Homo sapiens: one gene and its partners. The protein of the gene in region 3 interacts with the protein of the main gene of each other region in a biochemical or structural test. Each region holds a gene or a part of one and is shown on either strand. Other genes may lie near its edges.

The links. Proteins that work in one complex are often made in the same cells at the same time.
Region 1: the proteins of PARP1 (region 3) and APLF form a complex in vitro, tested with the Homo sapiens proteins (3 studies listed by BioGRID and IntAct, with this or other methods).
Region 2: of the proteins of PARP1 (region 3) and CASP3, one has a biochemical effect on the other in vitro, tested with the Homo sapiens proteins (9 studies listed by BioGRID and IntAct).

Annotation. Positions count from the first base shown.
Region 1 is NC_000002.12:68,462,675-68,471,108, reverse strand, and holds the start of APLF (aprataxin and PNK-like factor), read right to left. Parts: upstream 3,525-8,434; 5' UTR 3,378-3,524; coding exon 3,282-3,377; intron 1-3,281. Other genes in the region: FBXO48 (F-box only protein 48), read left to right, coding at 5,964-6,269, 6,739-6,900. UniProt on the Homo sapiens protein: Histone chaperone involved in single-strand and double-strand DNA break repair.
Region 2 is NC_000004.12:184,631,924-184,639,447, reverse strand, and holds part of CASP3 (caspase-3 isoform a preproprotein), read left to right. Parts: intron 1-979; coding exon of another isoform or gene 980-994; coding exon 995-1,047; intron 1,048-4,029; coding exon 4,030-4,154; intron 4,155-7,051; coding exon 7,052-7,180; intron 7,181-7,507; coding exon 7,508-7,524. UniProt on the Homo sapiens protein: Thiol protease that acts as a major effector caspase involved in the execution phase of apoptosis. Following cleavage and activation by initiator caspases (CASP8, CASP9 and/or CASP10), mediates execution of apoptosis by catalyzing cleavage of many proteins.
Region 3 is NC_000001.11:226,376,686-226,384,733, forward strand, and holds part of PARP1 (poly [ADP-ribose] polymerase 1), read right to left. Parts: intron 6,499-8,048; coding exon 6,351-6,498; intron 4,524-6,350; coding exon 4,383-4,523; intron 3,480-4,382; coding exon 3,237-3,479; intron 2,957-3,236; coding exon 2,888-2,956; intron 2,590-2,887; coding exon 2,457-2,589; intron 619-2,456; coding exon 423-618; intron 1-422. UniProt on the Homo sapiens protein: Poly-ADP-ribosyltransferase that mediates poly-ADP-ribosylation of proteins and plays a key role in DNA repair.

The DNA.
Region 1 (8,434 bases), on a different chromosome or scaffold from region 3:
TGTGTGCTAGGCACTGGTTGTAGGCTAAATAATAAAATGAGGGAAGGGCAAATCTAGAAATAAAAGAAACGTAAGGGAAGAAACCTATGTTGGAGCAGGTAGGAACAGCATTCCAGGACAGCCAGGATTCTGCAACAAGCAGTTAAAAGTATAGAGCTGCCAGGTCAGGGGATGGTTACTTTGTGTAAACTTTGTAGAACATTTACAACATTCTTAGAAGTGGTGAACTGATGCCACCTGAAGAGTCTATACTGAAGCCTATGACCTTCCCTGTTCCCCCAACTGAGGACTCTTCTCCTTTTAATCAAAGCAGTCAATTTAATTACATCTACATTGAGAAAGTATCACTAGATATCTTTTGCTATCTTGTTTCCTAGGAGGAAAATAGATCATAAAGAAATGTGTCATATAATCCCTGCTGTCAAAACAAAATAAGAAAAATCTGAAATCAGAAATAGTAGATTTCATTTAAGAGTGTAACAGCTTTAATTAAAACCCATAAAGCAAATACTTTGGCCTAACAGTGCTTGACATGTCGTACTGTAAAACCCTTTTAAATTAAATTTCTTAAGATAATGGTAGATTCACATGTAGTTGAAAGATATAATATAGAAATATCTCTTGTACCATTTATCCAGTTTCCCCTAATGGTAACGTCTTACAAAACTATAGTACAATATATCAACCTAAGATATTGATACTGACACAGTCCAGACAAAGCACATTTCTATCACCACAAATATCCCTCATGTTGCTATTTTATAGCCATATCCATTCCCTTCTGCCCTGCTGCCTAATTTTTTAACCTTTGGCAACCACTAATCTGTTCTCCATTTTTGAAATTTTGCAATTTCGCAATTTCAATGATGTTATATAAATGGAATCACACAATATGTAATCTTTTGGATTGGCTGTTTTAACTCAAGTTCTCTGAAGATTAATCCTGCTGTAAAACCTTCTAACTGATGCCAATCATGGAGCAGAATCAAAATCTAGTAAACAAAGACCTGGGGTTCTCTGATGACTCACATGAAAGCAAAGGGAACAAGAAAGATTAAATTTCATTGTCCTTTGTTCTCTGTGACAGGTTTCTCTGTTGTGTTTTCCTACCACCATAAAAATACAAAACCATTCTCATTGTCAAACTGTTTTACTACCAAGACTATTTTACACAGTCAGATTATAAACTTTTATGTTTGTGTGGCCATCAAGGTTTGTGAAGCTTGTCTCAGAAAAACATGCCCAATTAAGAAAGTTCAAAATCATCCTTATTTATATTAATCGTTTCCGATTCCAATTTACAATGAACTTACTGAGTTTTCCACTTAGAACTCAGTCTTCGCTCTCTCACAATACAAAAATAAATCTCACTGGAATTGCTGTTGTTGGAAACAGGAGCCCTTATGTTGTGTTTTAACCAGTGCAGAGAAGAATCGAGTGCATCTGTCAGCTCCAAAATCGAAAAAACTACAAGGCGATTTGTTTGTTCTCCAAATTTTTCCTTTAACACACTTAGGATGTCATTCATAACCACTTCTGATACACGCCAACCTTGGCAAAAGAATCTCATCCCTGAATGTTATTTCAAAAGGAAAAGCAAAATCTTGACCAGGTAATTGCCCAGCTTTCACTCCTTACCATTTTTAAAAACAGATACCAAATAGGCTCATCTCACATTAGCAAGTCGACAACACAAAGAACAAGCTACAAATAATGAAACGGTCTGCAATCTGTTGCCATGTTTCTAAACCACGGCCCTAAAATTCATCCACCTTTTAACCAGACCCACAGTACTCTACTGGTGACAATTTCTTAAGCAAGTCAAAACTCGTTAGTCACCAGACATATGATTACTAGATTAAGCACATACTCTTAAGTTTCAAACCTACGAATTTAAAAGAAAAATAAAGCCTCCAGACAGTTCCTTCCAGTGTTTGTATAGGCCAACAAACGATGAAAAAAATAGAAATGATGTTAAATATTTAAATAATCACTTGTCCAGTAAAAAAATGAACAGCAATTGAATATCTACTTCCTCAATAACCTTACCACATGCACATGTGCATGTACACAACACACAACACACAACACACACACACACACACACACACACACACACCCCTTTAGGACCAGCTTCCATAATACAATCTTAAACTACCACTCCTTTCCCTGCTCCCAGAAGGGACCTAAGGCAAGTACCAATGGTTCCATTTAGACTCTGGAAGTTAACCAGGACAACAGTACACACTCCTTACTCCTTGGTGTTAGCTCACTGACACAGGTGTCTCCCCGGTCCCAAGAGAAAACTCCTAAAGGGTAGGGACCCATGTTCCATTCATCTTTGTATGCCCCACAGTGCTAGAATCTGCAAAATGTTCTACACAGTGAGCACCAAACAAGAAATGTTGAATGTTAAAGAACAAAATAGAAAACTAGATGTACTTAAGAGATCTATAGAATTCCAGAATGCAATATGCAAATGTTCTTATTCCTAAACCTCTCCCAAAGAAGGTAGAGAATATTTAGCTTTGTGGCATTATGTGTCCAAAAGCTTATGTATGGACTTTAAATAATGTATGTATGGCTCAATTTTCTCATCTGAACAATGAGGATAATAAAAATAGCTAACTGATACGGTCTTGAGACAGTTAAAGATGTTGGTATAGGTAATGTCTCCTTAGACCAATGACACGAACGCTATACACATTACTTATGAAGGGTTAGCTACTCATTTTACTGGAAATAATAAATAATATAAATAAATAAGGTCCACACAGCTCTGCAAAGGAGACCAAAGGTTAAAAGAAATTAGCCTAGAAGACGTAATATCACAGTTTGGCAAACTTTTCTGTAAAGGACCAGACACTACTGTAAATATTTTAGGCTTTACAAGACAAGCCGCAATACCCTCAACCCTTGGAGCAACTATTCCCCCTGAAAAATTAGTAGATTTTTTGTTTACATTTTACATTTCAGAATTTAAGAATCATTCTTAGTTCATGGGGCCATACAAACATAGGCTGGATTTGGCCCCCAGGCACTAGTTTGCCAATCCCTGGATAAGATAATAATGGTAATACAGTCAGTGTTTTAAAAGCAACATAAAGAAATGTTTGTGAATTGGCTTAAAGGTAACTGAAAAACGTGCGGCCCCAAACTTCTAAAATCCGGACCGGCGGACCAGTGCGGTGGGGAAACCGGCCAGGACTAGGGCCGGTCTTCAGGAGCCGGCGCGGAACTCCACGGCTCTCGGGGTCCGCTAAGCCCCCGCCCACACTTACTCCCAGCAGCGGCCCGCGGCCGATCACCGTCTCCCCGGGCGCCAGGGCCACCCGGGGACCGCCGTCCCGCGGCTGCAGCTCGAAGCCCCCGGACATGGCGGGCAAGGATTAGGCCCCTTCGCCAGGAGACTGGCCCCTCCGCTGTTTCCGCCCTCCACAGACACGCGCGGGGCAAGCCCACGCCCTGGGAAAAAACACCGAGGGAGGGCCTCAAAGGCTCCCCGCGGCTGCGCCGGTCCTCTCAGAGCCCGGCCCCAGCGCAGCTTCACGAGTCCCGCCCCTCCACGCCTACTAATGACGCAACCGGGGATTCCCCAGTCTCGCCGCCTCAAAACTACTGTTTAAAAACCCCGGCTTATTCCCCAACACCCTTTTCACCTCCCTCCCATCTTGGAGGACGCCGGGCCTTGTAGTCCTGGTGGCTTTCTTCACTTCCTTTCCCGAGCGGAGACGCCCTGGAAAAAACTACCAATCCCCAAAGGCACTGCGCGCCCCTCTCGGCGCCTGCGCGAGTTCTGAGCAGGGCGGGACTCAGGTGGGCGGGATGCGAAGAGCTATGGGGAAGGATTCGAATTCCGGTGGATTTAAATCGCGGGAGGAGAAGCTACCGCGGCCTAGTAGGTAGAAGGGTCTTCCGTTCCCGTTGGCTTAGGTGTCTACGCTCCCGGGGACGCGGCCTGGACGCAAGCTCAGCCTTCCCTCCGCGGCCTGGAGCCGCAGTGACAGTCAACGCTGACGGTTGTTGTCACTTGTCAGTGCCCTGTGTTCTTGGGTTCCAGCAGCTGCAACCCGCGCGGGACACAAGGAGGGTGGCTCAGACGGGACGTGGGGTGATTAGCCCTGACCCGCGGGATTTGGACGGAGTGGGGCTCCCCGCCCCTCCGACTGCGCTGCCGCCGATCTATCCCTCCGAATGATAGTTGAAAGGGGGACGAGCTTTTACTTCACTTGAGAGAGAATTCAGGAAAGCTCAGTTCATAAAGGAGAAAGGGCAGAAGAGGGGTCGTTTCCAGGCATCCAGGCGAACCTGGACGTAGAAGAAAGATTCCTAGTGGGATTTTAGAAACTCGCAAAGGTATCCCCTGCTGTGAAATTCAAAAGCCTTCATTCCCGTTACAGGAATTCCACAAGGGGACGCATTTTATTCTCCCAGTAAGATCCTGGGAGAAGTGGATAAACACACTGTAACGTTTAAATGCACTGTAACGTTTTCCTAATGTGAGATTCTTTTCAAGAACGTTGTGGTTTGGCTTTGGTTTGTATTGGTGGTGGGAGGGGCCAAGGTGCATGGCAAAAACTTGCTCTTGACTCACCCGTTTTTACGTTTGCTTTCTTACTTCTCCTAACCCTCAAGAAGAAGACCTCTGTTGAACACAGACTGCAGTTCCAGCCACCACAGCTAATCTGGATCATGAATGGGAGCCACCGTGGTCTTGGCAAGTCCGAAAACATAGCTGAGTAGCTCGTCTAGAAAAGAGATTTGTGTTCAGCTGAGTTAAAAGAAGTATTTACCTCAAACCTCTCCTCTTGCACAACCAACCCCCGTTATAAAAGGAAGTGCAAAATGGAATAAACTGATTTTAAGTGAATACAAGCTGTCTTTATATACAAAAGTAACTCAAGGATGGTGATGTACCCAGTCATGCTTTCAACTGATTTGGGAAGCCTACACCATTCACCTTAGGTAAATTAGCTGAAACTGAGCTTTAAATCTGGGCTTCAAAGAGTCACATACTGTACCTAGCTGAGTTCTAAACATTGTTTACAGTTGTCACTCACTGTTGCTTGATGTCTTCAGTGACTATTATCCTTAGCTTGTAATTATGCATGTAGGATAGCTTCAAGGGGCCATTTCTAAAACACTACTCTTATGACTGAGTTGAATATTTGAGACTTTGTTTCATAATCCAGATCTCATCTTCTTGTCCATTTCAGATAGTAGTTGTGTCAAATGTAAGCACCTACCTACCTATAAGATACAAGTAGATAAAATTCTTATATAAACAACTAGAAGTCCAGCAAGTTTATGATTAAGTCACAAATTGCAAATTAATGATGAGGCATCAGTTCCCATGTACAACAAGTATTCAGGAGTTTAATAGGATTGACTCATATACATTTTCAAAGGTACAAAAGTACCGGGTATGGTGGCTCATACCTGTCATCCCAGCACTCTGGGAGGCTGAGGCAGAAGGATTGCTTGAGGACAAGAGTTCAAGACCAGCCTGGACAACATAGCAAGAACCATTTCTCCGTAAAACAGTTTTTGGTTTTCTGTTTTTTTTTTTTTCTTTTTTTTTTTTTTAAAGAGGGGCGGGGTACGCTGAGTCAAGAGAATCGCTTGAGGCTGGAGTTTGAGGCTGCAGTGAGCTATTATGACACATCTGCACTCCAGCCTGGGTGAGAGTGAAACTAACATGTTGGGTGCCTCCCATGTGCAATTCAGATGTAGCAAGACTAGATATTTTACCCACTATCACTGTTAATCCTTGCAAGAACTTTCAGGAGAGCGGCAGCATTGGCCCATTTTACAGATTGAGAAGCTAAAGTCAAGAAAGAGTTCTTAAATTATACCCAAAAAGCATCTGACTTAAAGTAGGATTTATACTCCTATTTGGAGACTGAGCATGTTTAAATTTTGCCTTTTAGGTTACATATGAGGATAACTTAAAACATTAAGCTATGCATAAAAACTCCAAGAGAAACAATAATTTAAGAGTTTCTCACACAGAAGCGAACTCTGTGGATGCTGAGAAGGAAAAAAATGAGAGTCAAAACAACTTTTTTGAACTGCTGCCTGCAGAAATCACTTTTAAAATTTTCAGTCAGCTGGACATTCGGAGTCTGTGCAGGGCTTCATTGACATGCAGGAGCTGGAATGACACAATAAGAAACAGTGACTCTTTATGGAAACCTCACTGCATGACTGTAAGAGCTGTGTGCCGAAGAGAAATAGATGATGATCTAGAAAGTGGTTATTCCTGGAGGGTAAGTTTAATCTTTGCGATCTGCAGTGTTGTTGACAGCGTTATGATAGCAGGTTTGCGCCAATTCTAACTTCTGCTTGGAGGAGTCAGAATTACATATGCAGAATAACACAGACAGTGTGTTGACTCTTGGAAATGAGTTAAAGTTATTAGTCTTTTCCTGCTAACCACACTGTTTCCACACTATCTTTCATTTATCCTTTTGCATTTTTAAAATTCTAAATTCGGGAATTTTCCTGCGTTAACCAGAAGGGAATTAGCTCCTTCTTTCCACTTCACCTTATGCCACTCAGTATAAATACACATATACATACACACACGTACACAGACACATACATTTATTAATGTACGTATATATAAATGTAAATACTCTTTTTTTCAGCCCTGTCAATCTGCTTCTCTTGCTTTAAACACATTCACTAACCAACCACCTACTACAGTCTTTTTTAACGGTGATTTACCTCTTTCAGGTGATACTGCTGAGGAATTACCAGAAGAGTAAAGTGAAACACGAATGGCTAAGTGGCAGATACAGCAACATTTGTTCTCCCATTAGCCTACCAGAAAAAATCATGTACCCAATGGATGCAGATACATGGGGGGAAATTCTAGAAGCAGAACTGGAAAGATAAGGGGAAAAAAAATCACAAATCTCAGGTCTTTGAAAGTTTAAAACTTAAATGACTCTTAGGTTGCAAAAGCGATATCTTTATTCGTTCATTTTGTTGTTCACCTTTTTAAAAGAAAATGAAATGGAACTATTATAAAAGTAAAGCTTTATTTTTGTTTTGCACTTTAGTAAAATTTTTCTGGTTTTATTGTAATGTGGAAAAATCATGAAATGTTATTTTTATAAGAAATAATATACTGATAGAGTGATTTCCAAATACAATGTTTCATGTATTTGTGTTAATATATTTGCAATACTAAATGTAAGAGTGATTTGTATGTTCAGCTTAATGATAATTCAAAATTTCAGGAAGCCACTTTAAACTGACTTAAAGATTCATTAAGTGGTGGTTATAACTAGGCTCATGGGAAGACTAGCTAAGTGAAATTAATAGCAATACATTTAAATTAATACATTGACATTTTAATGACTTTAACATTTCTATTTCAGTGGAATCAGATTGAAATGTCAAATAGTGAAACTATTTTTAATGTGTTAAGCCTGTGGTTTAGTTTTAAGTTAATGTCATCTCAGGGCTAAAGTTTGTCCAATTGAGATTCCCATTAATTTTATATAAACCTGGAACGGCTCTCAGGAGCTGAAAGTAAGTGGAAAGTTTCCAGAACACTTTACCATCAGAATGCCACACTAGCCTGGTAAAACTCTCTTTCTGACAGCCTTATAGCACCATCTAGTGTGCTATTCTTAGATAGCAAGACAAAGGACTTTCAGCTCCTTTTTGTTTTCTCCATATTAAAAAGAAAACTGTTATTCTAAAGAATCCTTAACACTTGTCTTTGTTAAAGTTTATAACTTTTTAGGAACCTTTATTTTAACTTTTAAAAACTTTTGTTTCTCTTTTTTCATAAAAACAGATTATATGCTACTCACTATAACAAATTGTTTATTCTGAATCTGTGGTTACCACCATAGTAAAAAAGTGTCTACAAACTGCTTTAGTTAGTGTGGGGTTTTCTTCTTAAAAACTGTTCTCTATAGCATTAAATATAAGAATCCAGGAAACCAATATTTAACAAATAGGCAAATATTAGAAAGATGCCCCACTATATGCAAATTCTGTATGTTGAATCAAGCAGTAGATAATTAATTGTCTCCTACTATCTTCTTAGAGTTGGAAGAGTCCTTGAAAATCAGGCAGTCAAGTGTCCAGGACTATTCAGTAATTTTCTCAATAGGAACACTGTCAGTCAGCCAGCCCAAGCTGAAATCCTGTACTTCTACTAATAGCATCTCTGTTATGTCACAGAACAGTCCAGTTGTAGTCTAGGCTTGCACTGAAGACCACCTCTCTGTAACGTTTGCCTTCTAGCCCCACTTCCACCCTCTAGAACCAGGCTGATTCAGTCCTTCCTGTCTATGATTGCCAGATATTTGAAGACTGATAGCCTGTCTCTTCCTATGTCTTCTCTCCAATTCCACTGATGATCATAGAGTATAATTTCTAGACCCAACAACATTCTCTTCTGCCCATTTAC
Region 2 (7,524 bases), on a different chromosome or scaffold from region 3:
TGCAAAGTACCTGGTATATATTAAGTGCTCAATAAGTGATAGTTGCTTTGATTCTAAGAACTGGTTCACCTTGTGAGATATAATTGTGTAATGGAAGAATGAAAGCAGAAACTTTAGTTTCTACTTTTACATTTCCTGGGCCATTTTACTACCCTAAATGAGAAGCTGGGCTTCCAAAACCCACTTTAAAAGTAAAGACTAGGCCGGGTGCGGTGGCTCTTGCCTGTAATCCCAGCACTTTAGGAGGCCTAGGTGGGCAGATCACTTGAACTCAGGAGTTTGAGACCAGCCTGGGCAATACAGCGAGACCGTATGTCTACAAAAAATACAAAAATTAGCCAGACATGGTGGTGCATGCCTGTAATCCCAGCTACTCGGGAGGCTGAGGCGGGAGAATTTGAGTCCAGGAGATCGAAGCTGCAGTGAGCCGTGATTGCGCCGCTGCCCTCCAGCCTGGGTGACAGAGTGAGACCCTGCCTCAAAAGAAAAAAAAAAAAAGAATAAAGATTAATGGAGATTTGGAACATCTTGATACTGTATCTTGGGAATCTAAGCATTGTAGAATTGTGTTATGTGAGTTATACCATTGTGGTGGGAAGTTTTTGATTTTTGTTTTAACTGTGTTGAGTTGCAGTTCTTAGAAATGACCCGAGGTGTTGTCTTACAAAAGAAATAAACTGTAATCTGTATCTTGATCTGATGAGGGTATGTAAATATAAAAAATCGAGCTGTATACTTTCTATATGCTTTATGTAGTTCACTATATATAATTCATAGCTCAATTAAAAAGAGAGAGAGAGGCTAAATTGTATGTACCATTGCAAAGAAATCATTATCCCCAGAACTGACTCACATACACCTTTAACAGTAGAGGGAGAACTGAGGTATTAATTTGGAAAAATAATCACTGGGATAATTAATATAATGCAGTGGTTTTATGACTGATTTTTTATTAACTTCTATTTTCTTTGTATTCTAGTTAATAAAGGTATCCATGGAGAACACTGAAAACTCAGTGGATTCAAAATCCATTAAAAATTTGGAACCGTGAGTATTTAAATTGAATTCTTTATAATCAGAGAAAGATGGGGATGTGTAATAAGCAAACCTCGAGCAGTGGGGCAAGAGGAAAGAGAGTGGTCTCTCTCTCAGGCCAGAGAGACCAAGTGACTTCCTACCTCAGACAGCTGTGTGGCTTTGCATAAACTGACTTTTCTTCTCTGAACCTCGTCTTTAACATGGGGCTAAAACTTTCACAGAACTGAAGGGAAGATGAAAGGAAAGGCCTAGTAGGGTGTGTGACCCATAGTTGGAAACCTAGTCCTGGAACCAAAAGGACACCACAGGAGAGGCAGGACTCCCAAGCGCCGGTGCTTTCTACCCTCCCGAATCGCTCTATAGGATTAGAGGGTTTAGGTTTGGGAGGAGTTTCTTGACCTCTTGTTTATGAGTTTTTACGACTAAAATGCAATGCCAGTTTTCAGTCCGGGGACAAACTGCCTAGTTATGGATGAATTTTACCCTTTTTTTCCCCGTGTCTTTTTGGAATATTCTGCTTATTAATGCTTCCAATAACTAGCAGATGGAAAAAGGAAAAAGATAAAACTCAAATTCACTTTTTAATTCTTGTCTGTTATTATTTATTTGGGATCTCTCGTAATACTTTAAATTCTGAAAGTTTATTTCTGAAACCCAGTATTGTTATTCTCGGCTGCCCTGAATATTACAAACTAATTTTATTACTAAACAATATGATTACAGAAATACTATTAACAAGTTACCACTAAAGATTTCACAATTTTGTTTAGCAAAGGGATTTTTCTAGAAAGTAAACTTTTAAAATGCAGTCCCATTTTAGAGAGTTGTTGCTGTCATTTAAATCATTTTAGCCAGTGCAGTGGCTTGCTCCTGTAATCCCAGCTACGTGGGAGCTGTGGCAGGAGGATCACTTGAGGTGGAGAGTTTGAAACCAGCCTGGGCAACATAACGAGACCCTGTCTCTACAAAAAAACAAAAAACAATTAGTCCACCATAGTGTGTGTGCTTGTAGTCAGTCCTAGCTACACGCCAGAGGTTACAGTGAAGTAAGACCCCATCTCTTCAAAAAAATCCTTTGAAAGTGATTTACACATTTTCCTACTATTTTTTTTTTCTTTCTTTTTTGAGACAGGCTGGAGTGCAGTGATCTGATTATGGCTCACTGCACTCCTGGGCTCCAGTAATCCTCCTGAGTAGCTAGGACTACAGACATGTGCCACCATGCCTGGTTATTTTTGTTTTTTATTTTTGTAGAGATGGGGGTCTTGCTGTGTTGCCCAGGCTGGTCTCCAATGCCTGGCCTCAAGGGATCCTCCTGCCTCGGCCTCCCAAAGTGCTGGGAGTACAGGTGTGAACCACCCTGCCTGGCCCTACCTTTTCATGTCATGCAGAACACCACTTCAATAACAAGTTGCACGGAAGCCCCAGACAGGTTTAGGGTTGTTTCGATCCTTTGGTAAGTTGCCCTCACAGTCCCGGCTTTCACAGCCTCTGCCTTTTATTAGGAGTATCCCCTCGTGGACTAGCTATCATATGCTTGTAAAGTACCTACCTCCTTAGGAGGCACCCAGAGCACGTGGGGAAGGGGTGTCGGGAGCTGGGAGTCATAAGTCCCATGATCCATCATCTGTAGGACTCAAAGGTCAAGTCACGCTTTCAGGATTTAACTTCAGTCTGTAAATGTGAGGCTGTTCACCTCTGGTTAAAAATCATAACTGTTTTCTCACGTTGACTCCTTTAATTTACTACATTTAATCTTTTTCCAACAGTATTTTTGGAATTGTGTATAATGTGAGATGCTCTTAAGGTTAAGTGCATGAGTATATGGACTGTAGGTGTTAGTGTTTGGTAGTTCCTAGACCTGTTTTTGCCTGACTCTTGGTCTAGATCAGGGATCAAGCTTAAGGCCTGTTTTTATCAACTTTCGTTGGAATATAGGCACATCCATTCGCTTACATATTGTCCTAAGCCCGTTTCACCAGTATAATTGAGCAGCTATGGCTGGGCACAGTGGCTCACAACTGTAATCCCAGCACTTTTGGAGGCCAAGGCAGGAGGATCACTTGAGGCCAGGAGTTCAAGACTAGCCTGGGCAACATAGCGAGATCCTGTCTCTAAAAAAGAAAATACAGAAATTAGCTGGGCATGGTGGGGCATGCCTGTCTGTAGTCCTAGCTACTCAGAAGGCTGAGGAAGGAGTATCACTGGAGCCCAAGAGTTCAAAGTTGCAGTGAGCTATGATGGCACCACTGCACTCCAGCTTGGGTGACAGAGCCAGACCATGTCTCAAAAAAAAAAAAAAAAGAATAGAATTGAGTAGCTGTAACAGAAACCAGATGGCCCACAAGCCTAAAACACTTAATATTTAGCCCATTAAAAAAAAAGTTTACTGACCCCAATCTAGATAGCAGAGGTTTTTTTAGATAAGTGACTTCCAGACAGATATTTTCAATTATTTACAATAATGCTTTTATATATTAATAAATTACTAATTTGTTTAGCTCATGGGGTTTAAGGAATAATTTATGAATTGTGATAAATATTGTGCTTTGAGTTATATTTGCATTTTGTTGATTTCCCATCATTTCAGGGTAATTTTTAAGATTTTTACTCTTACCTCAAAGGATAAAATATTTCACAAAGTTAATAAGTAATTTTTAAATTATAAAGGTATTTGATGAAATTTTGAAGAATTTAGAGGAAAATGTAAAACATGGAAGTTAAAAGCCTGAACTCTGAAGTCCAACAGATGCTTTCCTTCCTTCTTGGCTGTGACACAATATTTGCATAACCTTTAGCACATTACTTAGCCTCACGTCAGGTCATTTTCTCATCTGTATAACTGTTGATGTGAAATTGAAATGAAGACAGCCTGGTTTATAACATTCAACAAGTGTTAACTGTTACTGTGAGTTATAAAAATTGCACTAATATAAACAGAAGGCGTGGTCATTTCTACCTTTGTAAAGCTATTATTTGATTTCTAAACAGAAAGATCATACATGGAAGCGAATCAATGGACTCTGGAATATCCCTGGACAACAGTTATAAAATGGATTATCCTGAGATGGGTTTATGTATAATAATTAATAATAAGAATTTTCATAAAAGCACTGGTATGTGTCTTACATAATTTTTAATCCTTTTCAAATGTTTGTGCCATTTACATTTGATATAATATTAAAAGCAGTATTATTGAGGTATTAGACAGTAAACCGTGACACAGACTAGCTGTGAAGTAGAGATTGGGCAGGACCTACAGGTCCTCTGATACACTGTGAACGCGTCACTCTTCTGCCCAACTTCATAGCCTCCTCTTGCTGGCCTCCTATCTGTATGCTTGGTTGCCTCTGCCCTGACTTCTCTGTAGCCCTTGCTTCTTTTTCTTCTTTCTGCTTCCTCTTTGATCCCAATGGAAGGTTCTCAAAAAAACAGTTAAGTGGTAGTATTTATTTTTTCCCCAGAAACTGCAAGAGATATCACAAGCATTGCCTTATTTAATTTATGACAACCTGGAAAGTAACGATGAGATTCTGAAAGGTTAAAGACCTCGCGCAGTCACACAGTATGGCGGCAGAGCTAGGTCTGTGTGGCTCCAAAGCCCAAGCTCTGAATCCATCTTCTGTTCTGCTTCACTTCCTTGTATCCTCATGTGCTCTGTTGCCTGTCTTCCCTTACCCTACGAAGCTCCCCATCTTAGAGAGACCTTTCTTTTACTCTGTTCCTTTTGATTCCTTTGATATTTTGTCTCCTTCCCTTCTTCCTTAAATTTTGAATACATGTAGTTTAAGCTTGTACTCTTCATTTGTTTCCATTCCTTCTTGAGTCTTTTTCCATTTTCTGTCTCTACTACTAAAACTGCTTGCTTTAAATTTACCATGGCCTTGCCACCAGATCCCCCTCTCGATTTCTGTACTATGTACAACTTGAATGTAGTACTACATTTGAGAATGTTTTTTTAGAAATATAGATAATAAAATCCTTCACAGTGCCAAAAAAGCTAATTAATATTTGGTGTATTGTTATTTTTTCTTGGCAGTTCTTTTTAAAGCTTGATTTTATTCATAACGTATAAGCAATGTTGTCTTCTGCTTGTTTCACTTAAAGGAATAGCATTTTTCATATTGCTGCATAATTTTCATATCTGTTATAATGATTATATAATACTGCATCCCCAAAACTACCATTCACTTAATTTGAATAATTTACTGTATGAATGAACATTATGGCTGTTTCCCTTTTAAATTGATGCTATGATAATTCTTTGAATTGGCCTATTAATCATATTAGAGTTAATTTTTAATTAGAGAAGCTGTAGTAGATCTAAGGTGGGCCAGTACCTATCAGAGTGGTGGTGGAAATGGAAGGAAGCCAGATTACACTGGGAAGATAGCAGGGTTTGTGTCAGATTAATTATAAGGAGTGAGAAGAGAATAGTTGAAAATGGAGCTCTAAATGGCATCAGTTTTATTGCTTTTGGCTATAAGTTGAGATGCCACCTTCAACCATTAACTTAAAAACACAACACCTTGTTTACTTTTGCTTTACGCATATTTGAAAATTTACTTCTAGATATTCTGCCTCACATTTCTAGTTAGGATACCTCCTTCCTATAGAATTTTGCACTGTTGGCTCTATTGTTTCAAAAACCAAAAACAAGCATATTATTCCACTACCACCAGCACCTCCCCCCACATATTTAGACCAGCAGTCTGGGTTTTGCCCAGTGAGCTCCTTTCCTACTTTGCAATGTAAAGGTCAGGTTCTCATGAGATCTCTGGCAGGCTGGTGTTGGGCCAGGCGCCATGGCTCACACATGTAATCCCAACACTTTGGGAGGCCAAGGCAGGAGGATCCTTGAGCACCAAAGTTCAAGATCAGTCTGGGCAACACAGGGAAATCCCATCTCTACAAAACAGAAAAAAGGTAGCAGGGTGTGGTGGTGCGCACCTGTAGTCCCAGCTACTCGGGAGGCTGAGGTGGGAAGATAGCTTGAATCTGGGAGGTTGAGGCTGCAGTGAGCTGTGGTTGCTGTACTCTAGCCTGGGCCACAGAGCAAGATCCTGTCTAAAAAATAAAAATAAATAAAAATTAAAAGGCAGCCAACACATCAGCACCAGAAGCCAGTGACCTTGTCACACAGCTGAGATAATCAACAACATTTTGGAGATACATGTAGACTTTCTGTATTTAATCTTCATACCCATCAAATTTACTCAATTCTGAGGGATGTTTCCCACCAAGATTTAGCATTTTGAAATCTGAGTGCATCATGCAGTCAATCTGTACGTTAATGTGGAAGGTTCTCTAAAGGAGTGGTAGAAAGCCCAGGAGCCCTGGATACAGGCCCAGCATAGCTTTGTCACTTTGGACTGGTTTGTTAACTCTGCTACATGTCCCACATCTGCACAAGTGAAACTAGTAATAATATGACTCTCATGGTGATTGGAAGGATTAGAGATTAGCCATAGCAGAATACCTGATGAACAGTAATAATGTTTGGGGGTTTTCCTTGAAGGCACTATAAATGTTGTAATGCTATCTTAAAATTGTTGGGAAGTTAGAGTCAGAGAAACGCATTTCCTCTGAGTGTGACAGATGTGTGTATGTATTATAGGATCGTATTGTTTTCTAGTCTTATTTTTTTAAACTGATGATTTTCCCATGGCAACATTTTATCTGTGAAAATGACAACATAGTATATCCCATTATATAAGTTAGTATAGCTTGTCTAACCAAACCCTTATTGTTAGACATTTGTGTTTTTCACTACCTAAACCGCTGTGAAAGACATCATTTTGGCTATAACACTGATGAGCTTATATTATGAAGTATCTTATAAGCTACAAAATTGAAGAAATTTTGTTCACCATGTTCAAAATAGTTAGAATTCTCTTACCATTTAAAAGGAAGAATTTATTGTGGACTTCTGAATTGCTGAGTAGTTAATTTCATTTCAAAGTAGTTATTCTTTGTTTTCCATACAATTAAAAGTAATTCTTTCTGTTCCAAGGAATGACATCTCGGTCTGGTACAGATGTCGATGCAGCAAACCTCAGGGAAACATTCAGAAACTTGAAATATGAAGTCAGGAATAAAAATGATCTTACACGTGAAGAAATTGTGGAATTGATGCGTGATGGTAAGAAGAAACAATTAGAATGAACTTCATTGTACAATTAATTTTATACTATGGTCTAGCAATAATTATATGTATAATAAAATATGAGAATTGTGGAATTATACTGTACATAACCCTAATCTTACATACTTTAGTAAGAAGTTTAAAAAAAGTTATTTATGCCAACTTCCTAAAATGGTTTGAGATGTGTTGCCGTGCCCCAGGTTAGGTTAAGATGACCTCTTAGTTTTAGTCTCAGTTTCTTCATCATGTTCCCATACAGTATATCTGAAGTTGTTGAATAAAGTCATGGATTTTTTTTCCTTTTATTTGCAAATGTCTTTACAGTTTCTAAAGAAGATCAC
Region 3 (8,048 bases):
TTTTTGTCCTCCATTCTATTCATATATTACATTGATTTTTAAATGTCGAACCAACCTTACATTCCTGGGATAAATCCCACTTGGGAGTGGTGTATAGATCCGTCTATGCTGCTGGATTCGGTTTGTTAGGATTTTGTATCTCTATTCATAGGGTTTCTGCATGTCTATTCACAGGAAACTGCTCTGTAGTTCTCCTGTGCTGCTTTGGCTCTGGTATCAGGGTGGTACTGGCCTTCATGCAATGAGCTGGGAAGTATTTTCTTCTATTTTTGGGGGAGAATTTGTGAAGGACTATTATTCTCCTTTCAACATTTGGTAGTATGTTTACTATGATGCCACCTGATCCACGATGTGGATTTTCTAGAATAAGGTGTCCCTTCCTTTTCCTAGAAGCAGACAGTGTAAGGGCATTATGTGGTTACCTGGCCATAGTCAATCTCCAGGGGGTAGAACTTTTTGGGATACTTCGTGAAATTTTTGGAGTGCCAAGCGTTCCCGGTTTTTTCTTCATATAATTTCATGAAGTGCTCAATGGCATCCTCCTTGGACGGCATCTGTTCCAGTTTGTTGCTACCGATCACCGTACCCACACGGCCCCAGGACCTGAATATCCAATACCTGCAGTGGGAAGGAGGGTGTCAGATACACATGTGTGGGTCAGCTGTCCCATTTCAGGAGCTCCCCTTTCCTGCCATTACATTCACGTGGGGAAGAATTTTACACACCCCAAAAGGATGGTGATTAACACAGAACAAACACAACTGCTATAACAATAAAGGGTCTTTATTTTACTTTTCATTAAACTTTCAAATCATATTGACTACAAAAAATGCCAAAGAATAGTTTAAACTTGGTTCTGGCAGCCAAGCCTGAGGACTGAATCCTGGAGTCTGGAGACCTTTGCATAAAAATGATTCTAGTCCTCTCCCCAAAGAAATACAAAGTACTATCTGGAAGTCATGTGTTCAAGGAGTCAACCCTTACAGCTGTACCCTAAAAATAATGAAACTTTCAACTCAGATCCAAGGCCAAGACATGATGAAATGAGGGGGGCAGTGGCAATGGCTCCTCAGGTCCGGTGACCTAGAGATGCAGGCTGTCATGTTCAAATTCCATCTCAATTGAGGGTACACATCACACACACCCAGCTGCTGTGCTGCTCAGCTTTGGATGAGCTAATTTTTGATTAACTCAAAGCAGAGGTAATGCAACACTTAATTGTCATTTCATAATAAATATATATATATCATAAACCCACATACAAGATTTGTGTACATTTTAAAGATAGAACTACAGATTTCAAAGAAAATTTGGGACTCCCTGGCCATTCTCTGGGCTACTGAACAGGGGTATAAAAATTCATTCTCTGCTTGGTTTTTCCTGTGAAAATTTTTGAGAAGCACTACCTTGATCTACGTTGAAAATTTTTTCTGACCCTAACAGCCTACACCACCCTTTCACTTAACACCAGGAAATCTAAGCCACCAGAAAAATGTCCACATCCACAATCAACGTTAGAATTTAGTAAGAGTTCCTTCCACATGCCTTTACACTGACACATAAATGCTATTTTGTGGTGGCTGTACTGAGGGGCAATGAACTCACTAGATAAGGACCACTCTGCCTAGAAACATAAGGACAAAAGCCAGCCCAACCTCTCACCACCTCCCAGCTGCTGTACCCCACCATCCACACTCCAACCTTGCCTGTCTCACCATGTTAAAAAAAAAAAAAGGCAAATCCAACCTCTTTAGTTACTAGGGAGTTTGAACATTAAAGAGTAAGTTCAACGCTTGCCAACCTTTATTTGCTTCAAAGTTTTAAAACATATGTAAAATCAGAAAATCTTGATTCAAGTAGCTGAAAGAAAAGCCAGCTGGGGCTGGGTGCAGAGGCTCATGCCTGTAATCCCAGCACTTTGAGAGGCTGAGGCGGGAGGATCACTTGAGTCCAGGAGTTTGAGACCAGTCTGGGCAACACAGCGAGGCCCGTCTCCATAAAAAATAAGGCATGGTGGTGCGCACCTATAGTCCCAGTTACTCAGGAGGCTGAGGTGGGAGGATTGCTTGAGCCTGGGAGGTCAAGGCTCCGCTGAGCTGTGATTACGCCACTGCACTCCAGCCTGGGTAACAGAGCGAGACTATTTCAAAAAACAAAACAAATAGTTGCAAAACAACAACAAAAAACAAAACACCAAACAAAAAGAAAAGCCAGCAGAAGAATATGTGAAACCATACCTTGGGACAACTGTACAAGGACAGCAACGCTACTGGTTAGTAAGTGGCTTCTTTCTCCCCTTTAAGCAAAGGCCTTATAATTTGTTTTTGATCTCTGTGATTAGATTTCATTCCCCAGGCACTGGGCCTAACGGGTTTCACAAGGCTGATGGCACAGCACTAACCAATGCAGGACGGGCCCATGTCTCTGCACAACCAGGCTACACCTGCAGAACTCACCTGTTTTCCTTGTCGTCCTCCAGAAGCTGCAGCTTGTAGTAGGAGTTGGTTCCTTTAACGATGTCCACCAGGCCAAGGGTGGCACTGAAGACCTTCCCACCTTTCTCCAGGACATGCGCAGAGTGTTCCAGTCCTGTCCCAGAGGAAAAGCACCTACAGTTTTCTCTCCCCTTGAGGTGCTAGCACTCTCACGGAGAAGGGATCTGCAGGCCTGAGGTTCACGCCTCTTGGATACACTACCACCACCCTCGGGAGGCTCCCCACAAATGTGTGTTCTCAGGACTGGGGGAGCTGGTGAAGGAGGCCTGAGTGAGGACAAAGGCACGACCACACTGCCCCAGGTATGCTGCGGGCATTTGGATGTGTGCTCCTAGTCAGCTGGGGGTTGGGGGGCGGCACAGCCCACTTTGCTGGCAGTCCTGTTTGCTTACCAGAATCAGGATCCACAGCTGCTCCTCCTTTAAGAGTTAATTTCATTCTCTTTTCAGATTTGTTGATACCTTGGAGGAGAACAGAAAAATGTAAACATGAAGTTAAATGTAACTAAAAAGTAAGGGGAAGGTAGAAGGCAAATGAGTTGTTCTCATTCCCATCATCTGTCAACTCGGCATCTATATACACACTACTCCCGCCACCCCAAAGCGCCTGCCATTCTGTGTCCTGCTCTGCAGCACTCAACAGGCCATGTCAGGGACACAAAGGGAGAGGTTCCGTGGACAACAACCTGGCCACCAATGTCCCTGGCTTTTGGCCCTGGAGGGGGCAGCTTGGGGCCCTCACCTTCCTCCTTGACCTGGCCCTTGCTTTTTTTGGAGAGCGCAGCCCCTGACTTCCCTCTTGGGGCCACAACTTCAACAGGCTCTGCCTTCACCTCTGCCCCCCAAGGGGACAAGATGTGCGCTAAGAACAACTCCTGAAGGCTCTTGGTGGAGGCGGAGACGTCCTGGAGGAAGTCCTCAGACACAACTCGGATGTTGGCTTCCTTTACTTCCTCCATCTTCTTATTCATCTTTTCCACCTCCTCTGTTCAAATTGAAAGGAAAAAAAACCAAAATACAAGTTTAAAACAAAACTGAAACTTCAAATTACTACAGTTATATTTAGTGTGTACTTCCAAACCCTCAGCATTCACAGCTCTCCTTTGCTTCCAAGTCTAATGCTCCCAAGAGTGTTTTTATCAGCAACATTCCCCCTTTTCTAAGGTATGATGAGCCAGGGCAGCCTTCTCCAAACCATTCTACAGCACGATGTTAACAAACACTCCAAAGAAAAAACACCCTGATGTCAAATATGTATGGGAAATCCTGTATTCTATTTCTCTGGTTCCTGAAGACCTACAGTGGTAATCAGCATAATAAACCCACACAGAAACCTGTTTAGCTTTGTTTTACCCTACCTTTTCCAAACATACTTGAACCTTGAACTTCTGTTTTGGCAGATATCTATGCACATCTTACAGAGCAGTGCGAAGTGATGAGAATACAGGTTGAGCAGCTTCCCTTATCCGAGATGCTTGAGACCAGAAACCTTTCAGACCTTAAAATACTTGCTTCATATTTACTGACTGAGCATCTAATCCAAAACTCTGAAATCTGAAATGCTCCAATGAACATTTCCTTTGAGCATCATGTTGTCACTCAAAAAGTGTTGAATTTTGAGGCAATTTGTTTGGGCTTCGGGACTAGGGAGACTCAACCTATAGTAGCTTACCGTCTTTAGTTGAGAACACGCAATGCATGTGAATCTACAGTACAAAGCAGCAACACTGAGAGCAAATACTGGTTTCCCTTCATAAAGAACCACAGCGATGATGATGTTAAGATCCAGTTTTTCAGCGCTGTGTTCGACTCTTCCTCACTTACTCGTCATCACAATCATAAGATACAGAAGCATTGTCCCTGTTGCACAAATTCAGATTCAACTCACTTTTGGTGCTGATGCACAGGGAAGCCTTGTTGGCCGTCCCCGTCAACTTCCCCCCGAGTTTCTCAATCATGGCCTTCACTTCATCCTTGTTCCGGGACAGCTTCCCGAGAGTCAGGATCTTCATGTTGGATAATGGCTTATCTGGGATGAAAGGAGAGAATCATTCAGCAAGGCCAGCTCTGGTGCTGCTCCCCAGTAAGGGGAGGTGGAGGAGCAGGTGAGCCAAGCAGCGAGCTCCTGGGAAAAGCCTATGAAAATACACTCGCGAGAAAACAGGACGGGACAGCAAGCTGCCACCTGAGTACCTACAGATGTCCCTCAGCACAGAAAGGACTGGGCAGGGAGCAAGCCACAAAATGCCACTCCATGGCCAGGCCAGCCTCGCGGCGTGAGCCAGGCAGCTGCGGGTTACCCCAGGTCCGCGCCAAGGTCAGGCTAGGAAGGCTGCATCTGCGGACGAGGGACCAGGAGGCTGGAGTCGGATGGGAAGAGGGGTAAGGTCACATGAACCCCCAATTCCTTCTGTTATTCTCCCAAACAAACTGCAATTCTTATGAATTAACCCCATTTTAAAATGAGACATGTCCATGATAGTCCCTCAAAGCAGTGGCCAGCACAATCACACGGAGCTGAGCTAACTGATTCTAGGAGAAAAGCAGCAGCCTGGTGTGCACTGACCCAGGCCAGAAAGGCCTGGACAGGGGTGTGCCTTCTGTTCACAGCAAACAACACAGTGCAGGTGACACCCGTCCAGAACTGGAGTAGCTGCAAGGAAAAGTCCTTCCTGCCTTCCCTGTGAGGGCAAACAACTAGGAAACACTGACAGTTTAACTGAAACTGCTGAGGTCTCCAGAGAACAAAATTATTGACTCATGCTGAACTGCAAGTCAGGGGAAAGCAGAGGAGGGAACCCTCCATGGAGGGGTCAGAATGCCAGCCCCCAACTGGCCCTTCATGTGGGCACCTGGACCCAGGCTGCCAGCAGCACAGTGGACTCGGGATGACCACCAGCACACACTGCAGTGACCACTGGTCCCCTCTCAGGATATGAAAAGGAAGTCAATAACAGGTTTATGTTCAAGGAAGGAACCCTCATCCTCCACCCACCAAACTGTGACCTTCACCAATAGACTATGCCACATGTCTCTGAGTAAACAAGCAGCGGGTCACTTCTCCTGCCAAAAAAATACGTTGCTCTCACTGTCTTGGTTGGCTTGGGGCATTTCTCACTAGTGCTGATTAGTAACTCCCTCTGCATACAACAGAGACTTGAGCATCACACCAGGGCCCGGATGACTGGTGGGCGCAGGGCAGCCTGGAGAGTGAGGCCTGGGATGCTCCTCTGCAGTGCAGTCAGGCAGGAGACCCTGCGCCCAACTCCAGGTAAGGCTGTCGACCTAGCCTTTCTTAGGAGCCCCTCTCCTAGCCTCCCAGAGTAAGAGCTGCTTGTTCTTCTACAATGTTTATTTTATTTTTAGAGATAGGGTATCACTCCATCGCCCAAGCTGGTGTGCATTAGCGTGATCATAGCTCAGTGCAGCCTTGACCTCCCAGGCTCAAGGGATCCTCCGCCTCAGCCTCCTGAGTATCTAGGGCTAAAGGCACATACTCGGATTAATTTTAAACATTTTTGTAGAGATGGGGTCTCACTACATTGCCCAGGTTGGTCTCAAACTCCTGGCCTCAGCAATTCTTTTGCCTCAGCTTCCTAAAGTGCTGGGATTACAGGTGTGAGTCACTGCTCCCAGCCGATGCTATGTTCTTAACACTCTCCCACCTTGCTGTGGTCAGGGGTGTAACAAGCCAAGAGAAGAGGCCTATCCCCTGCAGGGCAAGGCTTCCCCATGGTGGGGTCAGCAAAGAGAGACCCTTGACGGATACTTTCTTCACCAGCTCCACACCACCAGCAAGTAGTGGGCAAACAATTCCTGCAAAGCAGCTCTAAGACCGGGGTCCCAAATGCTGTACCTGCTGAAGCAGAGGAGTTCACAGCAGCAGGAGCCGAGGCTGTGGAGGGCGGAGGCGTGGCCGCCACGGAGGCGCTGGTTTCTGGGGGGAATATACGGTCCTGTTTTTTAACCTTCAATTTCTTGAGGTAAGAGATTTCTCGGAATTCCTAAAAAATATTAAGTTTTAGTTAAGAAGCCAGCTCTCCCTTGAGGTAACCACCCCATAGACCAAAGAGGATTTGGCTTGTCCAAATCAAATAATCTCTTTTTTTCTTCTTACAATAAAGAGTAACAAAAAATAGAAAAATGTGAGGCTTTAAGGATGAAAGACAGTATTATTGCTGCTACAGTACTTATTTCCGGTACTTTTACATTTATAATAGGGCTAATATTGTGGCTGCTTTAAGAGAAAAATCTTTCCCTAAAAAAAACAAAAACAGAAACCAGTGGCCAATTCGGTCAGGGAACCACCACTGGAACTGCTGTATGACTACAACCTCCCTGGCCTCATTCCTGAGTTGCTCCCTTCGAGAGTTAATAGGCCTCTGTGGGATCACATGCCTACTCCAGAACTCCAAGACCCCGAATACTATATACACACTGGGAGATTATTACCCAAAAGGAAATCACAGTATTTGCTTTCCTTTTTAGAAGAAGGAAAAATGAATGCAGGGAGCCCTATGGTATTCACTATAAATTCTTCCATCAGCACAATTCACTCTTCACTCTGACTGATTTACAAGGGGCCTTGCTCTAAATGGTCACTCAATAAGTATCAAATACATGAAGCTCAGGGAAAGATACTGTGCTCCCAGGTCTTCATCCAATCAAGAAACTGCCCTTTCCAGCTATGCCTGTGTTCAGGATGTCAGTTAGATACAAGAGGTCACAGATTGCTTCCGACACACACAGACCACCTAATATGTGCTACCAACCATAGTCTGGTTAAAAAGACAGTTTCTGCTCTTCAGAAAGTATCTCATTCGTGACTGAGCATCAGCTATAGGAAGGTGAACTTTAACAAAGGAGCTAAGCTATGCCAGAGGTGTGCCAAGGTGATGTGAGACAGGGAATGCTAGCATGCACTTGGAGGCAGTGATCTGCTAAGCCCACTGGGAGCTGAAAACACAGGGGACTGCCTAAGCACAGCCATCTGAGTAGCACACGGTGGCATGTGGGGTGCCCTGGCTAGGCGCCCTATTGCTAGGTACTCCTAAAAAGAATGAGCAAGACTGGCGGTGGGGTGGGGAGAGGGGTATGTGAGAAGGAAGAAAAGGGTGGCAGAAAAAGGCTGCAGAAGGCCAGCAAAGCCGCATCACAGAGGGCTCTGAGGACAAGCTACAGAGCTGGCCTTGATTCTGTGGGACAAGTGCCTGGGGGCAACAGTGTCACTGCCTGGGCAGCAAGCACTGCCAGACCAAAAACTTGTCTCGCACATGCACATAACCTTTAAAAATGTATATAGATGCTCTACAATTGATATATAAAATACAAGGAATGGCACATTGCTTATTGCCATCTTACTATTTCCCCATCAAAGATAGTAAAAGAAATACAAATACCACGTAAGGGTCTGTAAGATTTGCATACCCAGAAAAATCGGGGAATCAGTCTAAGATTTTAAGGGTGGGGGAAGTGACAAGGTCAGATTTATTTTAGAGGAACCACTCAAACGCACAGAGAGAAAATTAGGAGGGATCATGCAATCATGGCAGTG